Linked DNA regions of Homo sapiens. The protein of the gene in region 1 interacts with the protein of each later gene in a pairwise test. Each region holds a gene or a part of one and is shown in the gene's direction. Other genes may lie near its edges.

Region 1 (2,891 bases):
GTGGTGGAAAGGACAAGCCGGGTACCTGCCTTTGACTGCGCCCGAGCGTTCTGCCTGCATTTTGTGAGGGATTTTTTGTCCTTTTCTCACTGTGAGCAGGTGTTGCACTTACAGTTGTTTAAAAATACACTCAGTGTCCCCCATGGGTTCCAGGGGCCCGTGGCTGGCTTGGTTTCCTTCCCCAGGGGCCCCTGAGTTCAGTCCTGTCCGTCTCCAGCAGACACCGGCTTCCCAGGGGTGGGAGGCTCCCCTGAGTTCAGTCCTGTCTGTCTCCAGCAGACGCCGGCTCCCTGGGGGCGGGAGGCTCCGGGCCTCCCCAGAGGTGTTTCCATTCTGCTCCCATGTGGCCTCTTCATTTTGTCGTTGTCCCCTCCTCATATACACTCTCTTTCATTTTTAAACCATAATTACTGTAGACAAATTTAAAATACAAAAATGTTAAAAAGCAGCAAGAACAATCTTAATCTTTTTTTTTTTTTTTTGAGACCGTCCTGCTCTGTCCCCCCGGCTGGAGGGCAGTGGTGCAGTCACGTCTCACTGCAGCCTCAACCTCCTGGGCTCAAGCGATCCTCCCGCCTCGGCCTCCCAAAGTGTGAGCCGTGCATTCAGCCCAACCTTAATCTTCTCACCCAGAGCCACCAACATTAATATTTTGGCCGCCTTTTCTTCCAGTCTTCCCTTTTTTTTTTAAATAAGCTTTTATTTATTTTTCCTTTTCTTTTTTTAATAGTTGAGGTGGATTTTTTACCACCGTAACCTCATACACAAAGTACCACCATACTGTAGACCCTTCTAGGTCATGGCGATGTTCTCTGCGCCACCAGCCACACGTGGCCCCGAGTGTGTGGAACGCTTCTGGTGCAGCTGTGGCTCTGACGTTCGTTGAAATAGCCGCTGTGGCCCCTGGCTGTCCACTCTGGGCCTCTCCTGCTGCCTGGAGTGTGTGGTGCAGCCTTGGTCCCCACCTGCGCTCTGACAGCCTTCATGTCTGTCCCCTTCCAGCTGCTCCCGGTGTGACCGCGTCCTTCCCTGGCCGACCCGAAGGAAGCCTTCTGGTTGTCTGCCACTTCCTCCTGTTGGACTGCCTGAGAGAGGGGAAGAGAGAGACCTCGGACCTGCATGTCAAGATGGATTTTCCCCTTTTATCTCTGCCCTCCTCCACTCCCTTTTTGTAACTCCCTTACAGCCCCCAGACCCTTCTTGAAACGAGAGCCAGCAAGCTGAGCACAGACCAGCAGCGACCTCCCTTCCAGCCCCCAGAAAGCTCGGTCACTTGAGTGTTTTCTAGAATCCTGGGGTGCTCCCGGGCCGCTCTCAGAGAAGTGGCAGGTTTCACGTTCAGCCGTGTGGCGGATCGTGTGGCTTCCAAAGCCTTTTACAGCCCCCGCCCCCCATCCCGTGGTCTGTCTGCAGGAACTCTCCCGTCTGTGAGAAGCCTCTTTCCGAGTCGACCTCCCGGCCACCCCGGCCCTGTGCCTGCTCGGAAGAGCTCACTGCCAGCTGCGGCCTGGGCACCGCGGGCCATGTGTGTTTGCATGAGGAACTCTTTAGTGGCAGACACCTAAGAGACGGCTGCGGTCACCCCACGCCTCCGCGGCTCAGGAGCCGTCCTGGGTGCATAGGACCAGTTTCTGTGACTTTTCTCCAGTTGGGCATGTTGACAGACATGTTTCCCCTCCTCCCACCCTCATTTTCTGGTCCTCGCGACTGAGAGCCAGGGGCGACATCATGACCTTCTGTCCCGGCCGCCTTAGCCCCGGGCACAGGGAAGGCAGCTGGGCCGTTTCTGTCTGTGTCCCATCCTGCTGTCCTTCTGTCCTGGATGTTTCATGGGCCCGGGGCCCCCCAGGGAAGCTTACCCCTCCTGTGCTGGGTGGAGGCCACGGGACACCTCAGGTGCCACCCACCTTGGCCCTAAAACAGCCACCAGGAAAGCAGCCGGAGAGCCGGACAGCAGGCAGCCTGTCTGGGTTCCTGAGGCCTGGGGGTGGCAGACGAGCCCACGGCGCCGTGGTCCCAGCAGCAGGGTTGTCAGTCGGAGCATCCTGGGGCTCCCTGGCTCCTGGCCGTCTGTGAGGTAGGCGCAGTACCGTGTATCGTAGGTAGCAGTAGGAACGGGGGCCGCCGCGGCCCTGCAGCCGCTCATGGCGGTGAGGTGTGTGCCAAGCCCACCCGGGGTGCAGGGCGTGACGTGTGGGGAATAAATAGGCGTTGTGACCTCTGTCTGTCTTCGTGTTGACCTTGGCGCCACCGATACCCTCCAACCCCAAACCTCGAGAAAACCCCCGACGCGGAGTTTGTGGATCAGCTGGGCTGCTTGTGAGTGAATCCCCGCGACGCCGGAGCCGCACTTCTTGGGTCACGGGTCACGGGTCATGGGAGGTTTCGGACAGTCAGCCTCTACCCTCTGCTGTCTCCCTTCCCTCCGCCTCCGTCCCCAGCTGCATCCCGGTGTAGAGGGTCACCCCAGGGTGGGGTGAGATGCCTCGGTCCTCAGCAGAGAGTGATCGTATTGTCTGTTGCTTTGCTTTGCTTTTTTTTTTTTTTTGAGACTTTCACCCTAGATGCCCAGGCTGGAGTGCAATGGCGCAATCTCGGCTCACCTCAACCTCCACCTCCCGGGTTCAAGTGATTCTCCTGCGTCAGCCTTCCAAGTAGCTGGGATTACAGGCATGCACCACCACGCCCAGCTAATTTTTTGTATTTGTAGTAGAGACGAGGTTTCTCCATGTTGGTCAGGCTGGTCTCAAACTCCCAACCTCAGGTGATTTGCCTCAGCCTTCCAAAGTGCAGGGATTACAGGCGTGAGCCACCGCACCTGGCTTTGTCTGTTGCTTTTCTAGCATACTGTAACTCCATAAATTCTGTATTCTGTAACCAAAGGCACCTCC
Region 2 (3,212 bases), on another chromosome or scaffold:
AAATACAACGAAAATTAGCCGGCTGTGGTGGTGTGCGTCTGTGGTCCCAGCTATGCTGAGGTAGGGCGATTGCTTGAGTGTGGGAGGTGGTTGTGCAAATGCACTCTCCAGTCTGAGTGACAGAATGAGACCCTGTCTCCAAAAAAAAAAAAAAGTTCACATATTAGATGGCAGAATATATATCTGCAAATTGTCAGTACTGTCATTATAAATTATTAGCCTTTGCACAATCCTGTGATTAGATGGGTAACATATAGCTGTTCTTGCTTCTATGTAACGTGAAGAATATACAAGCCATTCTAAATATACACATTTCTCTATTGTGAAAAATGTCTTATGGAAGTAAACCCAGAGGTCTCATTGAAGAGACTGGAGTCAATTTTCAGTTTCAGATTAACTAATAGCATTTCACTTCCTGGGATGATTTATAACAGTGGTGACTTGGAAATACTAAGCTGCACACTGCTGAGTGTTGTGGTTCTAACTCATGTTCTCCAGGAGGAGGACAGCAGTAATCAAGTCTTTTTTTTCCCTTTACCTTTGAAAGGAAGAATCCTGTAAGTACAATCCCAAGTATTCTGTTGCTAATGACACCGGCTTTGTGGACATCCCTAAGCAGGAGAAGGCCCTGATGAAGGCAGTTGCAACTGTGGGGCCCATTTCTGTTGCTATTGATGCAGGTCATGAGTCCTTCCTGTTCTATAAAGAAGGTAAGCATATTTTTCTTTGTAGAAATTGATGCAGAAAAAGAGTATCATGACATACGAGCATGATAGACTCTGGTTTGCAAGTAAAGTTCAGTGTAGATATTTAGGTGCTTAGCATCATAGTTGTTCATTCTGTACATGCAATATTTATACCTGATGTTTCCATTTGACATTATGTTGCGTATATCTCCATGAATATAAGTACTTCATAACTTTTTATAAATAGCTATATTTACTGTGTAGTTTAATATACTTAAAATATTCTGCAATTGTTGGATTTTTATAATTTTTCCAAAGATTTTTACTTCTATTATTAAATCCGAAAAGAGCCTTTTGATTCAAGGATTTTAGTGTTCTGTGCTATTTTTTTAGATTGATATCCTAGAGTAGAATTACAAGCTTACAAAGAGGGGTCTTTTTTTCCTCTAGGAAAGCTTTTTTTTAATGAAGGATTTATGCTGATTTCTATTTCTGCTAGTTGTAAATGAGAGCTTAAATCCCTGGCCTTCTTATTGTTGTTAAGTACTATCTGGAATGTGTGTCACTTCACTGAATTCAGAGATGCCTCATTCCCTGTGGGTGACAGGATGGGTTACTGTCATGTGTCCTCTGGAGCTTCTCACCCCAGCCCTCATTTTACCATCCCAGGCATTTATTTTGAGCCAGACTGTAGCAGTGAAGACATGGATCATGGTGTGCTGGTGGTTGGCTACGGATTTGAAAGCACAGAATCAGATAACAATAAATATTGGCTGGTGAAGAACAGGTATAAATTGCCAGAAATACTTACATTTGAAATTCAAAAGAGAATACTTATTTGCAAACAGTGTTTGGATACAGTTCCACATGCCCTTAGGCATACTTCTGAAATCCCCAGAAGTCTAAGTTGAACATATAATATTAATGTTTGATTATAAAAGTAAGAAACTGTCACAAATATCTTGGGAGTATGAATATAGTATTTGTTCCATTGTATAAAGGTGTATCTAAATCTGAACAGTTTTTAAATTCTGAGGCATATCTGGCTGCAAAGACATCCTATTGTTTTCCTGTCTCTGATCTGTAGTTCTGTGAAAGGTCACAGTTTGGAGGCTGGGATGGAAATTATGTCCAGGTTATGTCAAGAATTTTTTAAGGATAAACAGGAACATTGCCTGTCCTGATTCTTTCTGTTAAGTCTATGGCCTCTGGCACAGTGTTTAAGTTGGGTGTTCCTGTTAATAACCCTTTGGGCTTTATTCTTTCTCTGAAATGGAAAACCTGCTCTTTTTTCAGCTGGGGTGAAGAATGGGGCATGGGTGGCTACGTAAAGATGGCCAAAGACCGGAGAAACCATTGTGGAATTGCCTCAGCAGCCAGCTACCCCACTGTGTGAGCTGGTGGACGGTGATGAGGAAGGACTTGACTGGGGATGGCGCATGCATGGGAGGAATTCATCTTCAGTCTACCAGCCCCCGCTGTGTCGGATACACACTCGAATCATTGAAGATCCGAGTGTGATTTGAATTCTGTGATATTTTCACACTGGTAAATGTTACCTCTATTTTAATTACTGCTATAAATAGGTTTATATTATTGATTCACTTACTGACTTTGCATTTTCGTTTTTAAAAGGATGTATAAATTTTTACCTGTTTAAATAAAATTTAATTTCAAATGTAGTGGTGGGGCTTCTTTCTATTTTTGATGCACTGAATTTTTGTGTAATAAAGAACATAATTGGGCTCTAAGCCATAACTGCTGTGCCAGTGGCTCACTAGGAGGAAGAGTGGGTGGCCTTCTGGGTCTTCTAGTCACAGATGTACAGATCTCATGTCAGCTGCCCAGTGGCTATGTCTTAACCAATCCTTGATTGCAGCAAAATTTGAAAATGATCTATGAGGACAAAGGAAAATTGTTTGAATAAAGAAAAATATTCACTTTTTAGAAAAGTGAACATACATATATATAATTTTAATACTAGAAAAGGACTTTAGTGATCGTGTTTATTTCACCCAAAGTGGTTGCATCTCAGTCAAGTTACAGGGCAAAGGTCTCAGCCTGTTTCTGGAGCATCTTCGCCCACTGCTGGTGAAGGCCCTGTGGACACTTTGCAGTCAAGGTGGGTTAAGAACTAGTGCATTGCCAAGGCTGTTTGTTTTTGGGTCCTCAAGGGATGAGGAATAAACTTCAGGGTTTGAGGCTGGGGTTCAGAAGTGGTGCTCTGGCCTCAGAAAATAAAAGACAAGTGAGAGGCTAGAAATGACAATCTGTTGCCCTATTTAGAGCAAGCTACCTGAAAATACCTGATTTATTTTTTTTTAAATAGAAAAACTTCCCACATCGCACTAGCTAAACAGCCCATACTTCCATCACCTGTGTGTTTTCAGAAGTCTCTTGTTCCAACTGAAGGAAATATAAAGAACAGATGAGAATGTCCAATGAATAGACTCCATATCACAGAGGAGGGTAACCAGGTGTACAATGGAGTCTCAGCTTACAAAGCCCCCGGGAGGTTCTGTCCAA
Region 3 (3,861 bases), about 32 Mb from region 1:
GAGTCTCGCTCTGTCATCCAGGCTGGAGTGCAGTGGCACGATCTTGGCTTACTGCAACCTCTGCCTCCCGGGTTCAAGCAATTCTTCTGCCTCAGCCTCCCAAGTAGCTGGGACTAGCAGCGGCACACCACCACACCCAGCTAATTTTTGTATTGTTAGTACAGATGGGGTTTCACCATATTGGCCAGGCTGGTCTCAAACTCCTGACCTCGTGATCCGCCCACCTTGTATTCCCAAAGTGCTGGGATTACAGGCATGAATCACTGTGCCCAGCTGGAAAATTCATCTTCTTTTTGCCTTAAGTTGAAGGCAGCATAAGAGCAATCTGAAGCAGGTGATTTCGCTTTTCTGGGTCTGGTGTCCCCCTTCCAGGAAATGGGGATGAAGATCGCACCCATATGAAAGAGTTGCTATGAAGATTAAGAGTAAATGCGCTGATATCTGTCAGATGCTTAGCAGGGAGGCTGGAATGGAGTCAGGGCTACCCACTGCTGGTTACATCAATAAATAAAGGAGAAAACCAAATAATGCCACAAAATTCTGCCTAGATTTTATTGCCTGCTGAAGACTTGGAGCCCAAGGCCTGTTTTCTCTTAGGTAAAGGGGGGAGATTAACAAGGGTTGGAAGGTGGTAAAGATACCTCAGCACCAACCTAAGCCATCCTCTTTGAAGACTAGACAGAGACCTGGGAAGGGTAAACTTACACATTGTGTGAACCGTGGTCTTGCTTTGGGGCCACCTCTATCAGTCAGTTTCGGCTACAGCATGCTGTGGTAACAAACAGGTGTTGCTTTGGGGCCACCTCTATCAATCAGTTTCAGCTAGAGTATGCTGTGGTAACAAATAGTACCAAAAGTCTCAGGGGCTTATGACAACCAGGTTCACGTATACGTCCATCACAGGTTGACCAGTCACCAAAGAAAACTAGAGCAGTCACCACTGTGAACATTCAGGCCACCAGGCTAGAAGTGAAACAGAGCTTTGGCCTGGAGGCCTGAATGTTCCTGAATGTTTAAATGCCCCAGCCTGGAAGTGACAATGCACTTCTACTCACCGTTCCTTGGCCAGAATTAGTCACATGGCCCTACCCAACCTCCAGGGAGCCATCCATCTGAGCCTGGAAGGGGGAAGGAGAACACCAACGACATCAGGCATCACCCTGGCACCCCTCACCCTCTCCCCATGTGGCAGACAGTCTGCTGCCAAATTCTGCTCTAGGGAAGGCCAAATATAATAAGAACTGTCAGAGGCATTCGAGAACCATCAGGATGAACTTGTTGAATGGGAAGGATGTTCTGAGCTCTCCTGCAGGGGAACATGATTAGGGTCCAGGAAGGTGGGAAGTGGAGAAAAGTGAATCCAGAGACACACACACATTTTATCCACATGTGAACATTTCTGAAATCATTATGTGTCTTCTAATGGATGGGGACATTTCACGTGGTAGAGTTCCAAACATATTTACACATACACACACACACAGGGAAAACTATTACAAACTCAATTTTGAATCTTAAACTTGATGGTGCCTTAGAAATAAGTAATAATGGGCCAGGCATGGTGGCTCACATCTGTAATCCCAGCACTATGGGAGGCTGAGGCGGGCAGATCATCGGAGGTCAGGAGTTTGAGACCAGCCCAGCCAACATGGTGAAATCCCGTCTGTACTAAAAATACAAAAATTAGCCAGCAGTGGTAGTGCACACCTATAGTCCCGGTCCTTGGGAGGCTGAGGCAGGAGAATTGCTTGAACCTGGGAGATGGAGGTTGTAGTGAGCTGAGATCGCGCCACTGCACTCCAGCCTGGGTGACAGGGCAAGGCCCTGTCTCAAAAAAAGAAAGAAGGAAAGAAAGAAGAAAGAAGGAAAGAAAGAAAGAAAGAAAGAAAGAAAGAAAGAAAGAAAGAAAGAAAGAAAGAAAGAAAGAAAGAAAGAGAGAGAGAAAGAAAGAGGGGAGGGAGGGAGGGAGGGAGGAAAGAAAAAGAAATAAGTAATGTGGGGTATGAATCAGCACAGCTTCCCTGTACTGGATGGAGTATCAGGAGTGAGTGGATGTCAGCAGTAGCAGCAGGTGCCTGTCGGAGCTCTCAGGTGACTGAGAAGTTTTAGGGAGTATTCAGGGGAAGCTGAGACATTCATTGGTTCACCAGTGGAAATGGGGTCTGTTTTAACCTCATGACATCATGTGCAAGTGGGAGTGTGTCTGTGTTTTTCAGGGAATGAGTCCATAGCTTGCATCAGACCTCCATAGGGGTCCAGAACCAGGACTGCCATGTAGTTTGAGAAGATTGTACACTGCATAGAGGATGGTGCTGACTGATGGAGTGAGTAGGGGCTGGAATCCAGCTTGAGCTATGCTCTTCCAGCCTTGCGGCCTGCCATGAGGCCACATCATCCAAACCAAGGGGTCTCTATCTGACTTCCACAAAGAAATGATTAGGCCAGTGGCTCCATCTGGATCCTAAAAAATATTAAGAAATACACTGTTAAGTTTTTTTTTTCTTTCTCTTTTTCTCTGCTTCTTTCCCTCAGCTCCTGAGGAACCTGACCCATTTTACTATGGTGAGTGTTGGATTTGGGGATAGGGCTGGACTGGGGAGTAGCTGCAGGTGCTCACAGATCACTCCGGACATGGCTTCAGCTGTGGCCACACGATACGTGCTGGGCCACTGGCCACGGGACCATATATGTGGGTGTGGTTCACATCAGCTGAGTTCATGGAGGGCAGAACCAGATGGGGGAGTGGGGATGCCTCACACTCTCTCTGAGCCCCCTTCAGGTCTCACCGGGATCTGGGCTGGTGCCTTGGTGTCGCCAGAGAAGCAGATGAAGGAAAACCTTAGAAGCAATGACTCTGAGCCCAGGCTGCCTGGATTTGAATCCTGCCTTATCCACTCACTAGCTGTATGGCCTTGGGCAAGCAACTTTGCCTCTCTGGGCCCTTCTGTAAACAAGGGATAGTAATAGTTCCCACCTATGAGGACTGTGGGAAAGATACCTGACTGGTGGCATTAAATCTCCTCCATGGCACTGAAGCTCAAATAAGCTACCCCAGGCCTGGTAGATCGGGCTCCAGTTTCCCCTCTGAACACCCTCCTCTTGCCCCCACCCCACCCCTTTGCTCATTCATACTTTTTCCCTAGGTGTCAATTTCTCTCCCATCTCAGGACCTTTGCGTGTGCTATGATTCTGCAGTAATGCTTCTCCTTTGTACACGACCGGCTAAGGCTCCCCCTTATTCAGGCCTCAGATCAAACATAGACTACTCTACTGGGATAGGCCCTCCTGACTCCCTGGCAAGGAAGAGCCACACCATACTCAGCTGGTGTCGCATGACTTGTTTTTGAGGGGGATTGTTTCTTTAATGTTTTATCACAATACGAAAGTCAACTCCTTGCTGGTAGAGGCCTGGACCACTACTGGTACAGAGTGAGTGCTCCATAAATTCATATCTCAACAAATACTTAGCGGGCACAGGCTCTATTTCTGGCAATGTTCCAAGCAGCTGGAGACACTGCAATGAACCACACAGACAAGAATTCAAGAATGCAAGAATTCCTGCCCTCCTCCTGGACCTTCCACTCAATGGGAAAGGGACAGATACTCAAGAAAACAAAATATGAAAATTATATATTAGACAAGAATATTATTGGCCAGGTATGGTGGCTCATAACTGTAATGCTAGTGCTTTGGGAGGCTGAGGCAGGAGGATCGCTCAAGTCCAGGAGTTTGAAGCTGCAATGAACTATGATCGTGATTTTTTTTTCTTTTTTTAGACAAAGTCTGACTCTGTGGCTCAGGCTGGAGTGCAGTAGCACAATCTCGGCTCACTGCAACTCCCGCCTCCCAGGTTCAAGTGCT
Region 4 (3,861 bases), on another chromosome or scaffold:
ACTTTGAGAGGCCGAGGTGGGCAGATTACCTGAGGTCAGGAGTTCAAGACCAGACTGACCAACATGGAGAAACCCCATCTCTACTAAAAATACAAAATTAGCCAGGTGTGGTGGCACACACCTGTAATCCCAGCTACTCAGGAGGCTGAGGCAGGAGAATCACTTGATCCCCGGAGGCAGAGGTTGCAGTGAGCCGAGATCGTGCCATTGCACTCTAGCCTGGGCAACAAGAGCAAAACTTGATCTCAAAAAATAAAAAAATAAGTCAATGAGAGCCACTGAAAGACAGTTAAGCAAGGGAAACTTGAGTTAGGAGACACATTCTTCTTAGAGGATGCTTGATGAGATTGCACACACATATGTCCCATGAAGTAGACACAGTGCATTCCATAGGTCCTGGCAGAACGGAAGAAGAGACCGTTGCCTCCCGCAGCGAAGCTGGGCTGCTTCAGCATTGGGATCTCTCCAGCTCAAAGTCAGTTACCTTGGCATGCAGAATCTCATACGACTTAAACCAGCCAGGTTTCTTAGGTCTTAAAGAAGAAAGTTTCTCAAAAGGAACAATGTTTCTCCGTGCCAGATCCTTTGCCTCATATGTTTTCACACAACAAGGTGTCTTGATATTATATACTTAAGATTCCTTACTGGGAGCAATTCTCACAGGTTTATACATTTTTTTAAAATTCTCATACAAATACACAGTAAGCAATACCAATGTTTTATTTAACTCATTAATAACAGAAGCAGAAATATGACATACCCAGTTAAAAGCAGAATGAAGGAAACGTATGTATGGATAGCCAATGAAAGGGGAAAAAACGAACACAGAGGCCAGGCACAGTGGCTCACTCCTATAATCCCAGCACTTTGGGAGGCCAAGGCGGACGGATCACTTGAGGTCAGGAGTTCAAGACGAGCCTGGCCAACATGGTGAAACCCCGTCTCTATTAAAAATACAAAAATTAGCTGGGGGTGGTGGCAGGCATCTGTAATCCCAGCTACTCAGGAGGCTGAGGCAGGAGAATTGCTTGAACCTGGGAGACGGAGGTTGCAGTGAGCCGAGATCCTGAGACAGTGCCACTGCACTCCAGCCTAGGAGACAGAGGAAGACATTGTCTCAAAAAACAACAACAAAAATGCAGAAATGAGACAATGAGACTGCCAAATTAGGTAGGTGCAGGCAAGTTCATATCCTCTAGGGCAGTGCCACTACATAACTTCTCATGTTCTCTTTTCACCAAGCATTTACATTGTCACTGGACAAAAACCATTCCCATCACTATCAGGGCAAGACATTTGCATCTTATCAGTTTTCTCCAAGCCATCATCTCCCAGGCAGGATTGTAAAAATGTCTGAATTGATGGAAAATAGTAAATCAAGCCCACTTAATCCAGATGATCCTCAGGGACCTTGTAAGACAAAGCATGGCAATGAAGACACATGGTCCTTTTTGTGCCTAACTTGCAGTGTGTAAAGAGGCTTTTTTTTTTTTTTTAAGACAGAGTCTTGCTCTGTCACCGGGATGGAGTACAGTGGTGCAATCTCAGCTCACTGCAACCTCCGCCTCCCAGTTTCAAGCGATTCCCCTGCATCAGCCTCCCGAATAGCTGAGGCTACAGGCGCATGCCACCACAGCCAGCTAGTTTTTTGTATTTTAGTAGACATGGGGTTTCACCATGTTGGCCAGGATAGTCTCGATCTCCTGACCTCGTGATCCACCAGCCTCGGCCTCCCAAAGTGCTGGGATTACAGGCATGAGCCACCGCGCTCAGCCGTAAAGAGGCTTTTTAAAGACAATTTTTCTCTCTTTCCTTTTTTTTTTTTTTTTTCCTCTGAGACAGTGTCTTACTCTGCCATCCAGGCTGGTGTACAGTGATGTGATTACAGCTCACTGCAGTCTTTTTTTTTTTTTTGCATAAACATTCTGATTTAATAAATGGTATGAATATATATTTTGCATACTTTACAATAAAGAAAATTTTGAAAGAAAATTGATCTAAAACTGTTTCCCTCCAATTTCCATGGTAAAGTCAACTGCATACAGTTCTTTCCATGTATAAGTTTTACATTTGTATTTTCTACAATTAAATAAATCTAAATGTTAAATTTTAGCACATATATCCAATTATGTACAAAATTACAATGTCAATTTATAAGTCAAGCTTACTTAAAAATCATAAATTACAAAAAACACATTATGAATAATTTTGTTCTGGAAGTATCATACCAACTCATACGATCTAGGTGAACCCAAAAGTAAAAAACAATGATTATAAATTACAGTAGTGTCTGTAAAACCCTGTTATAAAGGAGGTATTCTTTTAAAATATGTACCTTATATATAAAAGCTCCTGACTCCTTTTAAGGACCAAAATTATTTTCAGTTTAACCATTTTCATTAAAATGCTTATTTAAAAGTATCGCCTTATAAAACTGAGTATATAAAATACAATGCAGCCCTTGATAACTAAGAATCTTTATAAATGCTAATTATTTAGTGACCTGTTTATCAAACTATTTCTGTGGATGGGGTGATTTTTTTTCTTCCTCTAAATTAAGTGGCCCTAGACTAATATATTTATATAGTTATTCTGTTTTCTTCCGTACTGTCATTTCACATCTCTATCAGTGAGTTCCTCAGGATTTGCCTTTATTTTACAACTATGAAAGTCTTCAATCCAATTCCCTGCTTCCACACATAGGACACAGAAAGCCTAAACTTTCCTTTTTTCTGGGCTCCAATGGGAAGCAGCATTTACAACGTGTCTGGCTTGGTAGGAGGAAGATTGTCAATTGAGGTATCATGTGTGTTCACCTGCCTATCTTGCCCTATTTCTTTGGTTGCTGTAAATTTCCTGCTTCTCAAATATCTGGATTTTTGGCTACCTATTTGGCTTCCGTCTTTGGTGTTTATATCTGTCTGGTTTTAGCAGGTCTCTCTGATTCCTGACTCACAGCTCCTCTCCTTCACTAATATTCAAGTGTGCTGCTTGCCTAACTCCTCATTCCTTCTCCTTGAATTTCACTTTACAATTGCACTAGGTTCTATCATCGTTGGCCACAGATTACCACAAAACATAATTTCTTAAATTCTGCACATTTCTAATGCTTCTAATCTTGGTTTCCTACAAGATCTAACACTAAGCTTGTGTTATCCTGATTACAGTGTATGTAAAACAATGCTTGTGGAAAACTAACCTAGGAGAAAGCTTATAGGGGAAACCTGATAATGAATTTTATTAAATTAATAACCCTTATAAAAATTTCAAATGTAATACTACCTGGATTTGAACTTCAATACTTTTCTTAAGTAAAATTCTTAACCACGGTAGAAGTTATGTTTGTTGATGTTCACTCATCTATACCCTCCATATTCTCAGCAAAGTTGGCATAAATCTGACCTGAATAAATAGGGTTATAACATTATCAGGCTTGTAAAATACTTTATCAAATCAATGCATCAGTTAAAGCAGGGGTCCCCAACCCTGGGCTGTGTGTGGCCTGTTAGGAATCGGGCCACACAATAGGTGAGCTGAGAGGCAGGTGAGTGAGCATTCTGCCTGAGCTCCGCCTCTTGTCAGATCAGTAGTAGCATTAGATTCTCATAGGAGTGCAAACCCCATTGGGAACTGCACATGCAAGGGATCAGGCTCACTGCAGTCTTGACCTCCCCGAGTTCAGGCCAGGTGATCCTCCCACATCAGCCTTCTGAATAGCTGAGACGAGATGATAGGCGTGTGCCACCACGCGCAGCTAATTTTTGTATTTTTTGTAGAGACAGGTCTCGCCATGTTGTCCAGGCTGGTCTCGAACTCCTGAGCTCAAGTGGTCCACCTGTTTAGGCCTCCCAAAGTGCTGGG

What was found. The genes of interacting proteins can lie anywhere in the genome.
Region 2: the proteins of SGTA (region 1) and CTSL interact in binary tests that used the Homo sapiens proteins (3 or more experiments, as listed by UniProt).
Region 3: the proteins of SGTA (region 1) and FXYD7 interact in binary tests that used the Homo sapiens proteins (3 or more experiments, as listed by UniProt).
Region 4: the proteins of SGTA (region 1) and PLAAT4 interact in binary tests that used the Homo sapiens proteins (3 or more experiments, as listed by UniProt).

What each region holds. Positions count from the first base shown.
Region 1 is NC_000019.10:2,754,045-2,756,935, reverse strand, and holds the end of SGTA (small glutamine-rich tetratricopeptide repeat-containing protein alpha), read left to right. Parts: intron 1-1,002; 3' UTR 1,003-2,221; downstream 2,222-2,891. UniProt on the Homo sapiens protein: Co-chaperone that binds misfolded and hydrophobic patches-containing client proteins in the cytosol. Mediates their targeting to the endoplasmic reticulum but also regulates their sorting to the proteasome when targeting fails.
Region 2 is NC_000009.12:87,729,026-87,732,237, forward strand, and holds the end of CTSL (procathepsin L isoform 1 preproprotein), read left to right. Parts: intron 1-547; coding exon 548-710; intron 711-1,355; coding exon 1,356-1,473; intron 1,474-1,982; coding exon 1,983-2,082; 3' UTR 2,083-2,444; downstream 2,445-3,212. UniProt on the Homo sapiens protein: Thiol protease important for the overall degradation of proteins in lysosomes. Plays a critical for normal cellular functions such as general protein turnover, antigen processing and bone remodeling.
Region 3 is NC_000019.10:35,146,162-35,150,022, forward strand, and holds part of FXYD7 (FXYD domain-containing ion transport regulator 7), read left to right. Parts: intron 1-2,532; coding exon 2,533-2,562; intron 2,563-3,861. UniProt on the Homo sapiens protein: Associates with and regulates the activity of the sodium/potassium-transporting ATPase (NKA) which catalyzes the hydrolysis of ATP coupled with the exchange of Na(+) and K(+) ions across the plasma membrane.
Region 4 is NC_000011.10:63,539,715-63,543,575, forward strand, and holds part of PLAAT4 (phospholipase A and acyltransferase 4), read left to right. Parts: intron 1-3,861. UniProt on the Homo sapiens protein: Exhibits both phospholipase A1/2 and acyltransferase activities. Shows phospholipase A1 (PLA1) and A2 (PLA2), catalyzing the calcium-independent release of fatty acids from the sn-1 or sn-2 position of glycerophospholipids.